Linked DNA regions of Homo sapiens. The protein of the gene in region 3 purifies or fractionates together with the protein of the main gene of each other region. This does not show direct contact. Each region holds a gene or a part of one and is shown on either strand. Other genes may lie near its edges.

Region 1 (7,386 bases), on a different chromosome or scaffold from region 3:
GTTCAAGCAATCCTCCTGCCTCAGCTTCCCTAGTAGCTGGGACTACAGGCACATGCCACGATGCCTGGCTAATTTTTTTTTTTTTTTTTTTTTTTTTTTTGAGATGGAGTCTCGCTCTGTCGCCCAGGCTGGAGTGCAGTGGCGCGATCTCGGCTCACTGCAAGCTCTGCCTCTCAGGTTCATGCCATTCTCCTGCCTCAGCCTCCCGAGTAGCTGGGACTACAGGCACCTGCCACCATGCCCGGCTAATTTTTTGTATATTTAGTAGAGACAGGGTTTCACTGTGTTAGCCAGGATAGTCTCGATCTCCTGACCTCGTGATCTGCCTGCCCCGGCCTCCCAAAGAGCTGCGATTACAGGCGTGAGCCACTGCACCCAGCCTAATTTTTGTATTTTTAGTAAAGACGGGGTTTCACCATGTTGGCCAGGCTGGTCTCGAACTCCTGACCACAGGTGATCACCTGTCTCGACCTCCCAAAGTGCTGGGATTACAGGCGCGAGCCACCGTACCCAGCCTTTGTTCCACTTTCATTCCCACCAGCAGCGCATGGGTGTTCCTGGAGCTCCATGTCCTCACTGGCACTTGGTGTTGCCAGTCTTTTGTTCTCACTATGATCCATGTGGACAGATCTCATGGTGGTTTTCATTTGCATTTCCCTAATAAATACTGTATACCACCAAGCTTGTCCAGCCCTTGGCCTGCAGGCCGCATGTGGCCCAACACGAATTCGCAACCTTTCTTAGAACATGAGATTTTTTATTTGCAATTTTTTTTAAGCTCATCAGTTATTGTTAGTATATTTTACATGTGGCCCAAGACAGTTCTTCCAGTGTGGCAAGGGAAGACAAAAGATGGCTACCTGCTCTATACCTTCTTCTGTGATGTATATTTCCTATTTTTGCATTTCAATGGAGAGAAGAAAGTCCTCTCAACAGATGCTGGAACAGGTGGAGAAAAACTACTTTCCATATCCAGGTCACGGAGACAAAAATAAAGGGGGCCAGGCGCGGTAGAGAAAAACTACCTTCCACTTCTAGGTCACAGAGACAAAAATCAAGGGGGCCCTGTGCGGTGGCTCATGTGAAACCCCGTCTCTACTAAAAATACAAAAAATTAGCCGGGCGTGGTAGTGGGCGCCTGTAGTCCCAGCTACTCGGGAGGCTGAGGCAAGACAATGTCATGAACCTGGGAGGCGGAGCTTGCAGTGAGCCGAGATCGTGCCACTGCACTCCAGCCTGGGCGACAGAGGGAGACTCCGTCTCAAAAAAAAAAAAACAACAAAAAAAAAACAAACAAACTGGAGTGGCCTCAAAGACTCTTAACATAACAGCTGAAAACCAAGACATCATAAGAAAATATTTTTGAGGCCGGGCGCGGTGGCTCACGCCTGTAATCCCAGCACTTTGGGAGGCCGAGGCGGGCGGATCACGAGGTCAGGAGATCGAGACCATCCTGGCTAACACGATGAAACCCCGTCTCTACTAAAAATACAAAAAATTTAGCCGGGCGAGGTGGCGGGTGCCTGTAATCCCAGCTACTCGGGAGGCTGAGGCAGGAGAATGGCGTGAACCCCAGGGGGCGGAGCCTGCAGTGAGCCGAGATTGCGCCACTGCACTCCAGCCTGGGCGACAGCGAGACTCCGTCTCAAAAAAAAAAAAAAAAAAAAATATTTTTGTTGGCTGGGCGTGGTGACTCACGCCTATAATCCCAGCACTTTGGGAGACTAGGGTGGGCGGATCACGAGGTCAGGAGATTGAGACCATCCTGGCTAACACGGTGAAACTCTGTCTCTACTAAAAATACAAAAGTTAGCTGGGCGTTGGCCGGGCGCAGTTGCTTAACACCTGTAATCCCAGCACTTTGGGAGGCCGAGGCAGGTGGAACACGAGGTCAGGAGTTTGAGATCAGCCTGGGCAACACGGTGAAACCCCGTCTCTACTAAAAATACAAAAGTAGCCGGGCATGGTGGCCCATGCCTGTAATCCCAGCTACTCGGGAGGCTGAGGCAGGAGAATCGCTTGAACCTGGGAGGCGGAGGATGCGGTGAGCTGAGATCGCGCCATTGCACTCCAGCCTGGGCAACAAGAGTAAATCTCCATCTCACCAGAAAAAAAAAAAAATTTGTCACTTTGGAGCAAGCAAAGACTCCTTAGAGAAGATACCAAAAAAGAGGAGTAAATATAAAATTAAAACTTGATAAATTGAACTTAATCAAAATAAAAAGCTAACGTTCATTAAAGACACTATTAAAATGAAAAGGGAACACATGCTGAGAGGAAGTATTGAAACCACCTTTGCAAAATTATAACTAAGGAAATTATGACAGTGAAAGATAACAGACTTAACCAATTCCATCTTGTTTCTAACCTTCAAACGGTCCTTGTCCATTACTGGCCATAGGCCAAACAAGTCTTGGGAAGGAATTTAATTTATAGTTTAAATAATAGCCCTTCCCCAAAACTAGACTGTTCTTGTAAAATGAATGAAAGGCCACCAGCCACCAAGTTAGAATGAGAGGGGCTGGAAGTCTAAATATTATCAGCCATTATTCTGGAGGTCATAAGATAAGATTTGCAACTTCCCCAAGATATCAACACTACTGTGAACCTAGGGTTGGCCTTTTTTTTTTTTTTAAATGGAGTCTCGTTCTGTAGCCCAGGTTAGTGTACAGAGGGACAATCTCGGCTCACTGCAACCTCCACCTCCCAGGTTCAAGCCATTCTCCTGCCTCAGCCTCCCAAGTAGCTGGGATTACAGCCATGTGCCACCACGCCTGGCTAATTTTGTATTTTTAGTAGAGACGGGGTTTTGCATGTTGGCCACGCTGGTCTCCAACTCCTGACCTCAAGTGATCGCCTGCTTTGGCCTTTCAATGTGCTGGGATTCCAGGCCTGAGCCACCGCGTCAGCCTAGGATTTGCCTTTTAAGAAGTCTTTTCCGCCGGGCGCGGTGGCTCACGCCTGGAATCCCAGCACTTTGGGAGACTGAGGTGGGCGGATCACGAGGTCAGGAGATCGAGACCATGCTGGCCAACATGATGAAACCCCGTCTGTACTAAAAATACAAAAATTAGCCGGGCGTGGTGGTGAGCGCCTGTAATTCCAGCTACTCGGGAGGCTGAGGCAGGAAAATCGCTCGAACCCGGGAGGCGGAGGTTGTAGTTAGCCAAGATCGCGCCACTGCACTCCAGCCTGGGCAACAAGGGCGAGATTCCGTCTCAAAAAAAAAAAAAAGTCTTTTCAGGTTTTTGCATTTCTGACAACCGGATGGCCCCACCTGGACCTGCCAACCAGTTGTGTGGCCTCTACCCAGGGACTGACTCAGCATAAGCGGACAGCTTCGACTCCCTGTGATTTCATCCCTAGCTGACCAGTCAGCACTTCTGACTCACTGGCCCCCTACCCACCAAATTATTCTTAAATACTGGGATCCCCGAGTTTTGGGGAGACTGATTTGAGGAATAAAACTCTGGTCTCCCGAACAATCGGCTCTGTGTGAATTATGCTTTCTCTATTGCAATTCCCCTGTCTTGACAATAGACTCTGTCCCGGCAGCTGGCAAGGCGAACCCATGGGGCGGTTACAGTGTCTGCAACGCAGACACAAGCGACAGAGACTTGATCAGAATATACAAGGAACTCTGCAAGTCAGCGATGGTAAGAAGCAGGGCAGCTGGGCCTCCTACGCCTGCCTCGCCGTTCGGTCCCCCGGACACCTCTGGGCTTAGGACTCAGGGGAACAGATTCCCAGAAGCAGGTTCCCCGCCGCGTCCGGCGCCCGGGCTCTGCAGCCGCCCCCTGCTCTGCCTCCTGCACCCGCAGGGCGTCCCCCGCCGCTCCCTCCCCTGCTTCCTGCAGCGGCCCCCGACCCCAGTCCTGGCCCCACCATGGATCCTGCATCGCCGGGTTCGGCCCTGGCGGGTTCAGCCCCGCAGAGTCGGCACCCGGGCCAGGTCCATCTCCTCCAGCCCTCCCGGTGCGTCCCGCGGGGCAGGAAGGAGGCGAGGCCCAGCCGCCCCGTGTCGTGCAGGTGTTTTCCCGGGCCCGTCCGCGGCGGCTGCTGAGGACCTGGGGAGACCCAGCCTGTAGGATCCGCAGCTGCGGTGCGCGGCCGGCAGTGGCGCTCGGGCTTCGTCCCCGGGGGCGGGGCTTCGTCCAGGCGCGCAGGGACCAGCGGGCCTCGCCCTCCCGCGCCGCTTTCCGATTGGCAGCCGCCCGCGGGGCATTGTGGGCCGTCCGCGCGCCCGTCCCGTCGCCGCCGCCGCCGCCGCAGACCCCTCGGTCTTGCTATGTCGAGCTCACCCGTGAAGCGTCAGAGGATGGAGTCCGCGCTGGACCAGCTCAAGCAGTTCACCACCGTGGTGGCCGACACGGGCGACTTCCACGGTGAGGACGGCGCGGAGCCCGGGCGCGGCGCAAGCGCCCTCCAGAGGCCCCGGCGCCCCGATTTCCCCGGGTCTCCCGTTCCGGGACGCGGACCGGGTGGCGGTGCCCCGGGCGGCTCGTTCCGGGAGGAATGAGCGCAGGTGCCGGATGTTGGGGCCAGGGACAGCCGTGAGGGGAGCGGGGCCCGGGTCGGCCGTGAGAGGCGCAGGGCCAGCGGCGACCGTGAGGGGAACGGGGCCCGGGTCGGCCGTGAGGGAGCAGGGCCGGGGGCAGCCGTGAGGAGCTGGGGTCAGCCGTGAGGGGCTCGGTGCTGGGGTCAGCGGTGCGGGCGGTACTGACGGGTCCTTGCGAGCCGTGGGGCACGAAGCCGGAGCCCCAGCCTCGCCCTCCGCCCAGGGTGGGGTCGGCTGCGCCCTCAGACCCCGCACCCGGGACGGGCTGTGGGCAGCCCGCGGGAGCCCCTCTGTGCACCTTCATGGGTCGAGGCAGCTTTCAGAGCCTTTGAGTTCAGGAGAGATTCAGGGTAGAGCTTCGAGCTGACTTCCACGTGGCCAGTTTGTGGTCAGCGAGATGCAATTTTGTTGGGCTGATGTCTGCAGAGCGGGGACATCAGCTAGCTCTGACCAGAAGCTGCCAGTGCTGCCATCGCCCTTGAGCCCTGCGGTGCCCAGTGGGACAACTCCGTGGGCGGCAGGTGCCCGGCCTGCTGGACAGCCACCGCCAGACGCACCGGGTGGGTAAAAGCCGGTGCCCATGAAAGCACAGGGTTGGTACACTGTTAAATACTGGATTTTCCTGGGCTTGAGTTGTTTACATTGGAGAGAACTTGGAAAATACAAAGAAGGATTATTTATTAATACTTAGCTCTTCTGTCCTCTGCAGTGCAGAGTAGACGAGCCTTGTGTCTATGTTTTGTTGAGAACAAGTAATATTTTTTAAGAAAATCATGAAACGCTTCATGGATGAATGCTGCGAGCACCTAATACGGAAGTGACTTCCTCTCTTTTCTGCTTTCTCATGGTGACTTGAGAAACAGGCTTTAATTCCTCTTTGGTAACTGAGTAAGGGCATTGTTTATCTAGCAGAGCCTAGAGAGTGAATTGGCATGTTTGGCTGCTTAACCATAAAATATGGGGATTCAGTGACTGGCTTGGGGTGCCACAGTCTGCTCCGGACCCCTCTTTGGGAGATCCAAAGCTAGAGCTGTGAATCCCTCACACACACAGCCCCCCCGTTGTAGTCCAGACCTCTCTTCATAAGAAAGAAAGCTCCAGAAAAGGGGCTACACATTTTTCTGCTGCTCAGTTTTTTCCCTTCTTAGCACTGAGAATAATTTGCAGTTTGCCTGGTGGACAGAGCGCTCATCTGTATTGTTCCTTACTGGCCCTCACCAGTTAGGGCAGAGCTGGTGCGGAGTGTCAGGTCCATTACACTTGGCAGTGCAGGGCCAATAAAGATGGATTTTCCTAAACCCACACCCACAGGAGGGCTGGGGAGTCCTGGGTTTCTGGTTTTGTTTTGTATTGTTTTTTAAGAAAACTTCTGGCCCAGCGAGGTGGCTCACGCCTGTAATCCCAGCACTTTGGGAGGTTGAGGCAGGTGGATCACGAGGTCAGGAGTTCGAGACCAGCCTGACCAACATGGTGAAACCCCGTCTCTACTAAAAATACAAAAATTAGCTGGGTGCGGTGTTGCATGCTTGTAATCCCAGCTACTTGGGAGGCTGAGGCAGGAGAATTGCTGAACCCAGAAGGCGGAGGTTGCAGTGAGCCAAGATCACACCACTGCACTCCAGCCTGGGCGACAGAGCAAAACTCCGTCTCAAAAAAAAAAAAAAAAAAATCTTCTAAACCCAAGTTGTGACATTTTTTTTTAATGAATATTAACAAAAAAATACATTCATTGATAGTATATGTTCATAAATGTTATATAGTTGTAAAATAGTCTGTTGGGTTTGTGATCTGTAGTTTGTGAAGTGAAGGTTCTTAACTCCTTGTGGGAGGGAGGCACAGGCCTCTGGAAATAGAATCAAAGCTGTGAATGCTCTTCCCACAATGTGATCCTCCCCATTTTGCATTCAGTTTAAGGATCCCTGGACCCTGAAACCCATTTTTGCCCCAATGGGCCTTGGTTTTGTTTTAATTTTGTAAAAGCCATTTGCTAAAAGCTGACTTTATCCAGGGGTGATTTTACAGGACGAAATGGGCTGTTTTCAGTGCCTCATTCAGTGCATTCTGGCAGACCTGTGTTAGCACTGTGCCAGATGTCATGTTGAAATGAGTATAGATGCACAACAGGCTTTTTCTTAACTTGTCATGTTGAAATGGGTATAGATGCACAGAAGTTGCAAAATCAGCCCATACAGTCCTGTGAACCCTTCAACCACTGTCCCCCATGGTGACATCTCATGTGACCATGGCATGGCATCCACACCGGGAAGTGGGCACTGCTGTGGTGCTGATGCTGTTATAGACTGCAGGCCTGGCTCAGGGCTCCCCAGTTTCCCCCTGCACTGGGGCAAGGAGGCTATGTGACAGTTTCATAAAGTGTGTAAATTCCTGGACCACTGTGACAGGACATAGCTGTCCCATTGTCACTGAGATCCCCGTGTCCCTCAGAGACCCCTCATTCCCTGTTCCTTGGCAACCTCTAACCTGTTCTCTACCTCTATAGTTTTGTCATTAAAGGACCCTTTGAAAGTACTTATTCCAGCCTGCGCAACATGGTAAAACCCCATCTCTACAAAAAGGAAGAAAAAAAAATAGCCAGGCGTATTGGTGCACACCGTAGTCCTAGCTACTCAGGAGGCTGAGTTGGGAGGATCACTTAAGCCCAGGAGGTTGAGGCAGCAGTGAGCTGTGACTGCGCCACTGCACTCCAGCTTAGGAGACAAAGTGAGACCCTGTCTCAAAAAAAAAAAAAGATATTTATTTGCCAAATAAAGTTACTGAACTTGTGAACTTCGGCCGGGTGTGGTGGCTCAAGCCTGTAATCCGAGCAC
Region 2 (7,151 bases), on a different chromosome or scaffold from region 3:
ACCACCTTAAAACCTTAAAAATCGTGTAAGGGAGGTTCTAGATTATTCCCATTTTGCAAATAGGGAAACAGAATTTGAGAACTGGAATAATCTGCGCAAGCACCTAGAGTTGGCAAGTGGTATTCTGGGATTCCATTCTGGGGGTTAGACTCATATGCTAAAATCTCTACTTTGATTTCTCCAAAGGTGCTTACCTTGACAGGAAAGAAAAGAACACTTACATTATAATGTCAAACTGACTTCATATTTCAGATTTCAAAAGCATCAGAAAATTGAAAGGTCTACATATATATATATACATATATATATATTTTCTATAGATTAGAATGATTGTGAATTTTTTTACATTTCTGATTTTTCATTCACTTGTCTGGCTGTGTCTATACATTTTTGTTTTTCAGAATTCCTTAACTTTGGAGGCAGTGAAACGACTAATAGCAGAAGGTAATAAAGAAGAACTACGAAAATGTTTTGGGGCCCGAATGGAGTTTGGGACAGCTGGCCTCCGAGCTGCTATGGGACCTGGAATTTCTCGTATGAATGACTTGACCATCATCCAGACTACACAGGTACCATGTTTTTTATAATTCTTAGTAACTCAATGTATCCCCTAGCTCATTTTCTATTTGGCAGACCTAATTTATTCTAATTATAGACATGTCTTACCAGCTTGGCTAGACACAGGAAGTCACCACCATTTACTCCATAAAGTAAGGCTTGCACAATAGGTCGAAGTAGCACTTATTCAGGACTCATATAGCCATCCATCCATTCATTCATTCATTTAACACACTTATTGAGTACATACCATGTGCCAGCACTGGGGATATAAGAATGACTCGAACAAACAGATTCTCTCATGGAGCTTTCATTCCAGTATAAATGCACCAACTAAGCTGACAACTTTTAAGGTCCTGTAATTTTTGCCATGATTACATAGCAAGTGCTAAAAAGCTTTTCTAACTGCCGGAGTTACCAAGAGCCTGTTCTCCTTTGTTTTATAGTATGGATTGAGTCTGTCTTAATTTGTGAATATTTTTGTCAGAATCTAGACCCAGCTTTTAGGAAGGAGATAATTTGACAAAACAGAAGTGCTTCTACTGGGTATTGGCAGTACTGTTTATGAGGGAAATGAAATAGAACAGATTATTCACATCAGTATTTCTTCACCTTAGACCTGTTGATGATGAATGTCACTTTAATTGTGGGAAAAGAAAGGCTAGAAAAAATTGCCTAATAGTGATTACATGTGCCTCACGTATACATCCCAGTGTAAAAGGCAGAGCTGGGCATGTTGTAACAAAACTCCAACAAGGAAAGCTTATCTAAGGGTATAGAATTACCACAGGGGCCAGGCGCGATGGCTCACACCTGTAATCCCAGCACTTTGGGAGGCTGAGCCAGGCAGATCACTTGAGCCTAGGAGTTCATGACCAGCCTGAGCAACATGGTGAAACCCTGTCTCTACCAAAAATACAAAAATTAGCCAGGCGTGGTGGTGTGCACCTGTAATTCCAGCTTCTTGGGAGGCTGAGACAGAAGGATTGTTTGAACCCGGAAGGCAAGGTCGTAGTGAGCCGACATTGTGCCACTGGACTCCAGCCTGGGCAACAGAGCAAGACTCTGTCTCAAAAAAAAAAAAAAAAAAAAAGAATTGCCATGGGAACTCCTGGTCACAAATTGTTATTAAGCAATAGGGCTCCCTGAGATGCTGGAGGAAAGACTTAGAATGGGGTAAGTATGGGAATCCTGTTTGGTTCATGGATAACATAGGAACTGTGCTGCTGAATAAGGTTGCCTTCTGTACCAGTTACTAGGGCTATGTAACAAATCATTGAAAACATAATGGTTTAAAACAACAACCACATTTATTTTGCTCACAAATCTGCAATTTTGGTAGAACTCAGTGGGGACAGCTTGTCTCTGCTCCACTCAGCACCATCTGGGCCAGTTTGGAGGTTGGAATCATTTGAAGGCACCTTCATTCACACGTCTGAAATTATTACTGGCTATTGGCTGGGATCTTAGCTGGGGTTGGAACCCCTTCATGTGGCCTGGACTTCCTTATAACATGGTGGTTGGCTTTCAGTGAAGTATCCAGAGAGGGAGAGAGAGAGAATGTGCCAATTGGAAGCTGTGCTGACTTTTATGACGTAGCTTTGAAAGTCACACAGTGTCACTTCTACCGTATTCGGTTTGTTAAAAGTGAGTCAATAAGGCTGTCTCATATTCAAGGAGAGGGCACATAGATACCCACTTCTCATTAAAGGAGCATTGATGTCACATTGTAAGAGGAACATGTGAGATGGCTTATATTACTGGGGCCATCTTTGGACAATCCAGTTGGTTACACCTGCCATTGGGCCTAATTGTTAGGGGTTTCTAAGGGATTCTAGATTAACCTAGAGCTTTTTCCCCTGTATTTTTCTATATCTAGTTTCTGAGAATAATGAAATGTATTCCCATTAAGGACTATCTTACCCATTTTTATCCTAGAATTCATCTCCTCTGGGGGTAAACCCTGTGGTAAACATAGATGATCAATATTCTAAAGGTCATGTAATTCAACCAGACACCCCTTGGGATAATTTTCTCCATGACCCCACCACTCTGAAGTGCTCATTCAGCCTATTCTTGGATACTTGTAATAGGAGACAGAGATGTGAAGAGTTAAGAAAGTTTTATCTGAGCAGCAAGTATATCTTTAAAATCTTAGGAGTGGATTCAAAATTAGAGGCAAGAGGATTCCCAGAACAAACAACCCAGGTTTCTACCCAGTCTTGGGTAGTGTTCCCTGGCAGAATGCTGATATGCAAATATATTTGTCACTTTTCACTGATCAGACTTTCATGGTGGCATAGGTGCCCTTCCTGCTGGTCTCTGGGTGTGGAGCCTCATTCTGAGGTACCCCAAAGTTTGCCTGGTTCATTTAAGAAGCAGATGTATGTGATTCAAAAATATGTCAAAGGAAACAGGACAGAGACTGGAGGAAACTTTTGTATTGTTTGCCTCATTGATAGAGGTTATAATTTCCTCCTGCCAATTAATTTATGCTTTATTTATGTTCTATTTTGGGTTCTGTGTTCATAGATTATTTAATTTAGCCATAGCATACCAGTGATGGGAAACTCACTGTCCTCTGAAAGAGGCCATTCTATCTTTGGACCATTCTCATTAAAAGATGGTTTCATTATTTTAAGCCAAAATCTGCCTTTCTGTAGACTTTACATATTGGTCTTAGTTCTACTTTTTGAAGGTCATACACATAAACTTGCTTCTTATGTTTTATAATAACATTTTATTTCTGAAAACCTCCCTCTTCCCCCACTGAGTCTTTCATCTAGAATAAGAATTCCCTTTTCCCTTGGCCATTCTTTCAGGTCCTCATCCTCAGCAGGCCTCCGAGATTTTTAGAGAATCTGGAGATGTGAATGCTTTTTTGCCCCATGGAGCATTGGGGCCACAGCTCAAGGGTTGAGCAGGAAGAGGGGTACTGTCACTGTTGTAAGTCTTGAAGTATCAGGCATCTGGGTACCTTCTGGGGAACCCACAAAACCAATACACATGGCCTTATTTCCTTGTATCACTCAGCCTCAGAAGATAATCCCAGTGCAATGTATTTGTCAAGGAAAAGCTAAAGGCATTCTAAATTAGCTTGGCTCTCGCAACAAGACTGTGATGTATCCCCTCCTACCCAAAATAAAAATTATGGCTTGGACATGGTGGCTCATGCCTGTAATCCGAGCACTTTAGGAGGCCAAGGCAGGAGGATTGCTTGAGCCCACAAGATTGAAACCAGCCTGGGCAATATGGCAAGATCCCATCTCTACAAAAATTGTTTTTTAAAAATTAGCCAGACATGGTAGCATGTGCCTGTAGTCCCAGCACCTCAGGAGGCTGAGGTGAGAGGATTACTTGAGCCTGAGAGATTGAGGCTGCAGTGAACCATGATCGTGTCACTGCACTCCAGCATGGGAGAGAGTGAGACCCCATCTCAAAAGAAAAAGAGTTATGTATATTTTAATAAGACTTCCTTTAGCAAAAGTGAAATAAATAATATAAAATGAATCATTATTTTTGCCCAATCAACCAGAGTTCTCTTTGTTTTATATGGCTTTGAAGGAAAATAACAACAAAAATAATGCGTAAAACAGCAAACACTTAATATAGTACTTAGTTGGTGTTGAATTCTCAGCACTTTGCATGTTTTCATTCATTTACTCCTTATGAGGTAGGTATTATTGTTATTCCTGTTTTACAGAAGAGGAAACTAAGGCACCAAGAAATTAAGGAACTTGTCATTTGCTTGTAGGTGGCAGCGTGGAGTACAAATTCTCAGATTGTGCTTCTAGAGTATGTGCTTTTAAGCCCTACACTGAACTACCTCTCACCAGCCCTGGATACAAATCCAGGCTCTGCTACTCGAATATCTGAAACTGTCACTGTGCCTCTCTGAGGCTTATTTTACCCATCTATAAAATGGGTTTTCTGGTCAGGTGCAGTGGCCCACACCTGTAATCCCAGCATTTTGGGAGGTCAAGACAGGAGGATTATTTGACAGTAGTTCAAGACCAACCTGGGCAACATTGCAAGACCCTGTCTCTACAAAAAATTTTTAAAAATTAGTTGGGCCTGGTAGCATGCACCTGTGGTCCTAGCTTCTCAGGAGGCTGAGGTAGGGGGGGATTGCTTAAACCCAGGAATTCAAGGTTGCAGTGAACTATGATTGTGCCATTGCAACTCCAGCCTAGGCAACAGAGCAAGACCCTGTCTCTGGAAAAAAAAAAAAATTTCCTAACAAAGTTGATCTGAGGTTAGAGATAACAGCTACTAAGTGATCAATGACTAACACAGTGCCCAATACAAAAACATAGATAATAAACAAAGCTGTTATTTTATTATTGTTCAGTTTGCTTCCTTACTGAGATGAATTTTTCCCTCTCTCCCATAGTGTTCTATGAAATTTGAGAAAACTTAATTTTTGGCTAATTTTTCTATATGGTATATATAAAAATATGTTAAAACATACTTTTTAAATCTATGGTGTATTTGTAGGGATTTTGCAGATACCTGGAAAAACAATTCAGTGACTTAAAGCAGAAAGGCATCGTGATCAGTTTTGACGCCCGAGCTCATCCATCCAGTGGGGGTAGCAGCAGAAGGTATTTAAACATTTTTACAAAATGATGTTTTTATAATTTATTTTGCAGTTTTATTTTAATCACCATCTCAATAACTTGACTTTAATATATTCATTAGCCTCATTGCTTAACTGTAAAAACAATGGGTAAATTCTCTTGGCAACTTTTAAAGATTCTGGTTTTACATTAGGTTAAGGAAATAAAATTATTTAGACAATTTAGAATGTAATACCTAGCTAAAAGAAAGAAATTTCTTAAACTGGCAATATTATTTTTCCCTCTCATTTGCCTTTTTATACATAATTTTTACCCTGCTATTCATAAACCTCATGACCCCCTTCCCTCTCTTGAACGCCCACGTCAAGCTGCATTTCTGAAACATTCTCAAACCAATGGGACTCTCTTATGTAGCTGAAGGCATATGATGCTGATGGTGACAATGATAATAGTAATAGCAGCAATCATTTGAGTGCTGATTATGAACCAGACACTTATGTATTTACTCATTCTATCCTCACAGCAACGTGTAAGGTATGTACTTTTATCTCTTTACCCTGAGATTATAATGTGAAAGGAGGAGTCGCAATTTAAGCCTAAGGACACTAGTACCAGGGGTCAGCAAACTTTTTCTCTAAAGGGCAAATAGTGGATATCATACACATTGCATATCACATGATTCCCATCACCACTACTCACCTCTCCCATGAAGCAGAGAAACATCCATCGACAATGCATAAACACAGGAGCATGGCAGTGTTCCAGTAAAACTTTACTTACAAAATGGGCTGTAGTTACCAACCCCTGCCCGTAACCATGTTACATAACCCTCTTTTTTACTTGAACACTTCCTCTGTTATGATGAATTTTTAATCATTCTAGAGTATCAGTATTAGTAGTAGCTTAGAATTACACATATTGAATATTAATGAAAAGTCTTATTAGCTTTACAGAGCTGGATGAGTTTATAGAGTCCTATCTTTGCCCATCAGGAGCTTCCAATCTAAGACAGAAGCACTCGTGGGGACAAACGTGTGGCCGTGAGGAAGGGTGCATAGCCGGGGAAAATCACCCGGTGGCATCAGCCCCAGGTTCAACTCAGGAGGGCATAAGATTTTTAGTCTTTAGCTTTGCAGCTCAAAAATGTGCTTTTTGTCAATAAAGCAAGAGAAAAGTTATAGCTCTGGGGGATAGATGCACATGAACTACATTCACAAGAGAATGATGTGGTATAAACCAGCATATCAGCTTGTCATTTACAGTTAGTGGATGTACAATCAGAACTAAATCGTGACCGTGTTCCTCTGCCGCCCCAGGGCAAGTCAGATCCTTTGCTCAGAGCATGCAAAGTGCACGTATGTGGCTAAGTCTGTCTGCTGAGCTGCGTAAATTTCTTCATTTTGGGCTGACTGCCCTGCTTCTGGTTGATACAACCTTCAGAGATATGTTAACATTATCAATTAAGGTACAGATTTTTTTGCCCTGGCCTTGGAGCCGTATCATTTCCTTAAAGTGAGTGATGTTACTGATTTAAGCTTATGGTTCAAGTCTCAGAGTTTGATGGGATGGGATGGAGTGGAACTCAAGGCTACTCTCTATCACCTGTAACGCGTGAGACATTTAGAGATCATAATGTAAGTGTTTAACCAACACATGGTAAAATATTCATGATGAGTGAATGGAATCTTCGTAAGGAGTTGGAAACTATTGCAGTTTCTGAATTTCGCCCGAGGAGATGTTTATCCTTTAATCTTCCAATTTTAAATATCTGGTGGGGAACGTAAGCAGTAACTGTTAAGTATATGCAGAGAACGCATTGCATTTTTTTGTGCACATTTGTAACAGAGAGAGAGAGTGGCGATCTGCTCTTTGTGCCCCAGCCAGCCTTCAGAATAGTGTCGGCGAAGCTAGTGCCCAAGAAGTATTTGGGGAGAGTAAGAATGATCTGATTGTTTAACTCACAGGGGTGGTATAATGTTGTTCATTCTAAGTAAATCGCTCATTTATTTGTGG
Region 3 (7,151 bases):
GAAGAAAGAATTAATTCAGATCATGGAGTTTAATATTTTAGAAGAAGCATCCGTAGTAAAATGTTCAGGGCTGCTGTTTAAGCTATTTAAATCCACATTTTGGATACAGACTGCATCTATAATCAATCTATAAAGAAGAGAAGAATGATGTTTTGATGCACCTGTAATCACAGAATCATGACATACTGGGTCTGGGCAGTTAGCATTTTACAGAGAAGGAAACAGGGCCCAGAATGTTATGTGATCAGACAAAGGTCACAAAGCCAGGATGACCGACCGCCCAGTATTCAGCTCTCTGGTCAGTGCTGCTTTTGTCTCATCAGAAGTCTCCCCAGGGGAAACGCCCAGTGGGGTCTCCCCTAAGTACTGGCTTCACCCACACTGATTAGTGGTTCCCCTTCCCTTCTAACACGTCTTTTATTTCTCTCTAGGTATCTTTAAACTATTTAAAACCTCTGAGTGACTTAAAAAAAAATTCCTTTCCCTTTGAACATGAAAAGTTACCTGATAAGTTCCATTCACTGTTTGAGCGAGATTTGCTTCCCAGAATGTTTGCCTTATTTCCAGGAAAGCAATGTCAGCTTTGCATTCTGATATTTGAGGAAAAATCAAATCTATGATTTTGAAAACTATGAAAGTACAATAAACTTTTATCTGGGTAATGAGGTACTTCAATTGTGATTCTATATGTGGATTATCAATTTTTCCAAAAATTGGAATTACACTGTTCTTGGATGACATAGAAGGTATTCCAGGACCTGACAGGCCTAACATATGATAGTGTGACCTCAAACCAGCTCATAATTTCAAATGCAGGACCTGATGGTAGACGTGCTGGGCTCAAATGCTAGCTCTAATTTGGTGGTGAGATCTTGGACAAGACTGCTAACTTCCCTGACTTTCCATTTCCTCTTCCTTAAAATGAGGTCTGCTGTGAGGATCAATTGAGATGGTGAATGTAAAAAAACACTATACAAACTACAAACCACTATATGGATATTAGTGGCTATTTTCTTGTTAGCTGAAGCAAAGTCAGCACCAATTCTATAACCATCTCCCCTCTACAGAAAACAACTGCATGGCCCAGTGAGTGGGAGCAAAGGCTCTGGGTTCAAATCCTGAGTCAGCCATTTACCAGCTGGGTGACCTCAGGTAAGTTACTTCTTCGTCCTTTGGTTTTCCCACCAGAAAAATGGTGTTAAATACAGCATTTACCTCATGGGGTTCATCTGAGAAGTAAATGAATTAAAACATGCAAAATATTTAGTGTCTACAACAAAGTAATGTTCAATAAATATCAGCTATTATTATAAGAGCCTAGAGATATATTACAGCCTACTTTCCTCCCTGGCCTTGACCTTTTATTCATTCATTCATTCTTTACCTTTTATTCATCAAACATTTCCTGCACACCTGACATATTCTAACTAATGTTTTCCCTGGTCCTCATCTGTTATGACTTTCATTTTTCAACTTTTTAAGTGTGATCTAACAAGCCACCTCAAAGCCTTTGTACAATGAAGTGATATATAAACATTCACTGTGTTTGTGTGGGCAAGAGCGATCCAGTCGTTGAAACTCTAAAATTACTTCAAACTGCTCTTTCACCCACACTCTGTGCACACTGCAAAAGAAAAGTGATCCTCCAGAATGATGTCTTGAGTACTTCCATTGTTATTCATTAACACTCAACTATTCATTAACTTTAAAAAATTATACGTGTATGTGTGTGTGTGTGTTTGTCCTACTATGTGCCAGGCACGCTATGGTCAGGCAGAGTCCAGATGGTGAACAAAACAGTCCTTTCTCTGCAGAAGTATACAGTCTAGCAGGGCAGCCCATCAAGAAAACAGCTACTAGAACACAGTGTGGTAAGTGCCAGGAGGAGGAGGCCCAGGGTGCCAAGGGAGTGCGGAGAGGGGCATTGAATCCAGAAAAAGCCAACCATCCCCTCACACAAGAATCGCTCAGCACACTCTATGCATCAGATGCCCATGCTGAAAGGGAAGGACACGTGTTCCAGGCACAGTGAAGGGTATGGTGAAGACTGGGACGACCTAAGACAGGAAGGCCAAGGGAATGGAGACACCTACCGGTCCAGAGCACCACTCGTGGGCATGCTCCGTGCAAAGCCGCGGACCCCAGTCTGCTGGAAATACGGAATGCTGAAGATGTTGGCAGCAATGACAGCCACAGAGTCTGAAGGGTTCACAAAGAACCCATGCTTGCCCAGAATCATGTTTCGATCCTTGGGGAGAAGAGAGGATCAAAGAAAGACCTTTTAATCAAACTATAAGAAATCAAACTATCTTTCATGGGGGTTTTATAAAATGTAAAACTATAAAATTTGAAATTGATCTCCTTTCCATACTGCATTTTTAACACTGGGTTTTATTTTCAATGAGTTTATACAGTACCATTGGGCCGAAGGCACCTCCATGCCAAAAAGTTAAAACTGTTTTCAATTAAAGTCCAAGCACAACCTCCTTTTGAGCTGAGTCCTCTGTTCTCCCTCCAGAGGCCAGCTAACTTTAACCTCCTAGACTTTTTTCAGACTCTGGAACCAATCATCTTTTTCCCAGGGGAGGGGAAAATGCAATGAGAGAAGAAATATTGGCTGTTTACATAGTTTGGTAGGTCTACTGGGTAAACTGTGTACCACAGTCTGTGTACCACAGTAACTGGGAGGGTGGCCAAAAAACACTCCCAGAATGCACTCATCACAAAGATGTACTACAGAATAATGTCTGCTGGAACCCCTTTAATTTCCCAACATTTTGATAAGGGAAAAATCATTTTTCAGGAAACAGTGGATTCTAGCTAATGGTAACACTAGCAACAACAAAAATATATTTTCAACTAAGTAAATGTATACAGTGCCTACCATCAGTGAGATACCAGGGATATAAACCTAAGACACATCTCTTCCTTGTCTGGTACATAGTCACCCTTGTAAATAAAACAGCTTATTTCTAAACATTTTAATGGTAGAGAATGATTAAAATGTTAATTCTCTCAATATCATCTTCATATAGGCAATGAAATTACAGCTTCAATATTCAGCTCATGTGAATGAATGAATGGGTGTATTATAAGACCAAAATCTTGTCCAGAGATTAAATAAGTAGCCAGCTGCTGGTTGAGAGCAGAAACCCACCTTAAGACAGGCATCTAGAACTCACCCAGCTCAGGAAATACCAGTCATTCTATCATAATCAGAACCTAATCATCGTGCCATTGTTAGCAAGTATGGATGTCTGAAATTAAATGTGTGGGTTTCATTTCAATGACTCCTATTCCTGTTCAAGAGGGGCTTCTAATAATTTAGTTCTGACCTCGGGTCAGAATGAGGGATCCTTAACAGTTATTCCCTGGGTCTGGCAGAAGCAGCCCACTTTTTTCCCCATCTGCAGGATCAGGCCTGGCCTGCACCAGAGTTCACTTAAATGCACTTATACCCACCCCATCTCCATCAAAGGCAGCCCCAAAATCATGCTCTCCTGACTTCATGGTCTCCACCAGGTCAGCTGCATAGGTGAGGTTGGGGTCAGGGTGGTGGCCTCCAAAGTCCTCCAGAGGAACGCAGTTAACTGCCGAGTTCGCAGGGGCACCGAGTTCTTCACAGAGGATCTTCTTTACATACGGTCCCACAACTATATACAGCATGGAATAAATGTATGCAGAATCAGAAAATAAAACTCCTTAAAGTATGTGAGGATTCAGGGGTGAGGTGGATGCATTCTGGGGAGAAGAATGGCATGAGAAACAACAGGAATGTGTGAAATGTGTTCAGGGACTAGTGGAGAGATACGCCTGACTGGAGAAGAATGTTCTCTAAAAAGGAACAATGAGAGATTATGTTGGAAAAGGTGGGGCCAGTTCATGAAGGGCAGAGTGGGGAAAGGAAAGGAAACCAACCATTATAAAGGCCCTGCGGTATACCTGTGCTTTCCCATTCAGTCCTTCAGAAAAGCTCAGAAGGTTGTACAGCTTAGAGCTTAAGAGCCTGGACTCTGGAATCAGAGTGTCTGGGTTCAAATCCCAGCTCTGCCAGTCATTGGCTGTATAATAATTTTGGGAAAGTTATTTAAACTCTCTGTGCCTCAGTCTCTTCCATCTGCAAAATGAGGGTAGTAATGCTAACTACTTAACAGGATTGATGTAAGGATTAAATGAGTTAATAGCTATGAAGTACTGAGAATAGTACCTGGCAGATATGTTATAAATGTTTATATTATGATTATCACCTGCAGTTTACAGATACATTGGAATGTTGGTGTTCTGAGGTAAAGACATTTGCCCAAACTTACATGGCTAGGAAAAGTGGGAATTGGGATTCAGAGCTGTTATCTTTATATTATGACAAGCTAGCTGACAAACTGATTAAAAAAACACAAACAGGCCAGGTACGGTGGCTCACACCTGTAATTTCAGTACTTTGGGAGGCTGAGGCAGACAGATCACATGAGGTCAGGAGTTTGAGACCAGCCCAGCCAACATGGTGAGACCCTGTCTCTACTAAAAAAAAAAAAAAAAAAAAAAAAAAAAATATATATATATATACACACACACACACACACACACACACACACACACACACACACACACACACACAGAGACACAGACACACACATGCATACACAAAGATTTGCCAGGCCTGGTGGCGGGCGCCTGTAATCCCAGCTACTCAGGAGGCTGAGGCAGGAGAATCGCTTGAACTTCGGAGGCGGAGGTTACAGTGAGCTGAGATTGCACCACTGCACTCCAGCCTGGGCAACAGGGCAAGACTCCGTCTCAAAAAAAAAAGAAAATAAAAAACCCACCACCAAAAACAAACAACAGGAGAAGCCAGTTACATATGTTTACAGTGACATTTTATATAACTACCAAGAACACGCATCTCTGAAATGCTGAGAGAGTATTTTCATCAAGGATGGTACTAATCCCAATACAGTACATGCCCCAGAGGTCATAACACTGTAGAATAAATGTGTCCTATGAGGCATCACCTATTAAGCAGGTTACTGACACACCACAGAATGAGGTCAAGGCAGCCAGGGCTGTGAGGGATATAGAAACGAAAGCATTAGAGGAACAGCCAAAAGACCTGGAGAAAAGTAGTCTTCTTCCGGAGAAGCTCCTCTTACCCAATGCCCTCCTCACATGCCCCATTATCCAGCCAGCCCAGGCCTCTCGTTTCCCTAATGTGACATCCATTTTTAAGCCTTCATGCCTTTGCCACAGCCACCGACTCCATGAGAATGACCATTGCTTGATTTTTCATCACTCTAGATCTTTCTTTCATAAGAACTGAGTTGGATGCCACTTCTTCCAGGAAACCTTTCTTTATACCTAGTCAAATTATGCCTTCTTCCAACCCCAAAGAGAATACTTGAAATTCCAACTCTCATTTTGTTGGCCTGGCAGGAGTTAGTTTTTTAGGGATTTTTTGTTTTTTTGAGACGGAGTCTTGCTTTGTCGCCCAGGCTGGGGGGCAGTGGTGTGATCTCCGCTCACTACAACTTCCGCCTTCCGGATTCAAGCTAGTCTCCTGCCTCAGCCTCCTGAGTAGCTGCGATTACAGGCATGTGCCACCACACCCGACTAATTTTTTGTATTTTTATAGAGACTTTTATAGAGATGGGGTTTCACCATGTTGGTCAGGCTGGTCTTGAACTCCTGACCCCATGATCCACCTGCCTTGGCCTCTCAAAGTGTTGGGATTACAGGTGTGAGCCACCGCGCCCGACCCCGGGGTTAGTTTTTTACCCACTTCGTCTCCCCAAACATTGCACATTCTTTGAAGAAAGTAATCTGCCCAGTTCCTGCCTATTCCCCAGGCATGCATTTTGCAGGTATGCAATACACATCTGTTGAATGGTTTAAAATGACAGAATCGCTTTTGTCTGAGTAAGGAAGTAGATCCATTCTATGGGAGTCCAGAGGCCAGCTAGGACCCAAGGGGAGAAGTTTCAAGGATGGAAGGTTTTAGTTCACCAGCAGAAGACTTTCTGTGGTTTGCAGTGTCACAGGAATCCCCGAATTGCATCACTAAAAGGGTTCAGTTGCAGGCAGAAAGGCTTCTCCAACCAGGCAGATGTATGTGTATAGGTTTCAGGGATTCTCATATACCTACATGTCTGAGAAAACCCTCGTGGTTCTGGTTCACAGTGATAGCTGCCCTCTCTATGGACCTGACCACACAACCCACGGAGGAAGAAGAGAGGGCTGTACACATCATGTTGCTCCTGAATTTAATCCTCAGCTTGCTCTTGCCCTCTTCTAAGAAAACGAGCATTTGGGGGCAGGTGAGTGGGGGTGTGGGGCTCAGGAGTATGTTTATCACATCTCCCAAATGACCGTCCTCTCAGAAATACATGGGGGCATGCAGCAAGAATGTAAGGTATCTTCTGAGGGGGAGGGAGAGTCCACAACAGCAGTTGCATGTTACTCAGAACCTGATGCTTAAGGTGGAAACACTGACCTTCACACGAGCTTACCACGAGGAGTGTCTCTACTATTTTTGCTACATACAATTAGATTTTTATCTGTGTGAATATTGCTCTGGTTGCAAAATAACTCTATTTAAAAACCATCAGAGAGACTTGAGAAAAGGCTTGTTGAAGCATCATGATACACACAGAAGAGGGCAACTTCCTATCCTCAAGAGATGGGAATTGAAAAGAAATGATTGTATACCTCCATGCATAGCATCAATACGGATCTTCAGTCGGTTTGGCCCAGAAAGTAGTTCTTTCAGTGCACTGAAATCAAAGATGCTTCTCAGCATTGTAGCATAAGCTTCTACCGAATCCACAATTTCCACTGTGAGAACAAGCAACATCAAAAGATGGAAGGATTAAACACATTTAGAAATATTATATTCTGATGTGACTATATTGCTGTAAACCTGCTATTGCTATTTTAAAAGGACAATTATTGAACAGCTCCAATAATACGGCTGTTAAGTGATATCCGATACTATCTAATACTACCAATCCTTACCCAATACTAACAATTTTCCTGAGAGGTAAATGTTATTAGTCCTATTTGATAGATGAGGAAACTCGACGTGTGAAGGGTTAAGAAACTTGCCCACACAGCTTGGATGAGGCACACAGGGGATTTTCAACAGAGGTTGTATAAATTCT

What was found.
Region 1: the proteins of PGM1 (region 3) and TALDO1 fractionate together in Homo sapiens (co-fractionation; 2 studies listed by BioGRID). This does not show direct contact.
Region 2: the proteins of PGM1 (region 3) and PGM2 fractionate together in Homo sapiens (co-fractionation; 2 studies listed by BioGRID). This does not show direct contact.

Annotation. Positions count from the first base shown.
Region 1 is NC_000011.10:743,194-750,579, forward strand, and holds the start of TALDO1 (transaldolase), read left to right. Parts: upstream 1-4,270; 5' UTR 4,271-4,288; coding exon 4,289-4,385; intron 4,386-7,386. UniProt on the Homo sapiens protein: Catalyzes the rate-limiting step of the non-oxidative phase in the pentose phosphate pathway. Catalyzes the reversible conversion of sedheptulose-7-phosphate and D-glyceraldehyde 3-phosphate into erythrose-4-phosphate and beta-D-fructose 6-phosphate.
Region 2 is NC_000004.12:37,829,563-37,836,713, forward strand, and holds part of PGM2 (phosphopentomutase), read left to right. Parts: intron 1-401; coding exon 402-569; intron 570-5,055; coding exon 5,056-5,162; intron 5,163-7,151. UniProt on the Homo sapiens protein: Catalyzes the conversion of the nucleoside breakdown products ribose-1-phosphate and deoxyribose-1-phosphate to the corresponding 5-phosphopentoses.
Region 3 is NC_000001.11:63,631,331-63,638,481, reverse strand, and holds part of PGM1 (phosphoglucomutase-1), read right to left. Parts: intron 6,826-7,151; coding exon 6,700-6,825; intron 3,654-6,699; coding exon 3,463-3,653; intron 2,249-3,462; coding exon 2,094-2,248; intron 1-2,093. UniProt on the Homo sapiens protein: Catalyzes the reversible isomerization of alpha-D-glucose 1-phosphate to alpha-D-glucose 6-phosphate. The mechanism proceeds via the intermediate compound alpha-D-glucose 1,6-bisphosphate.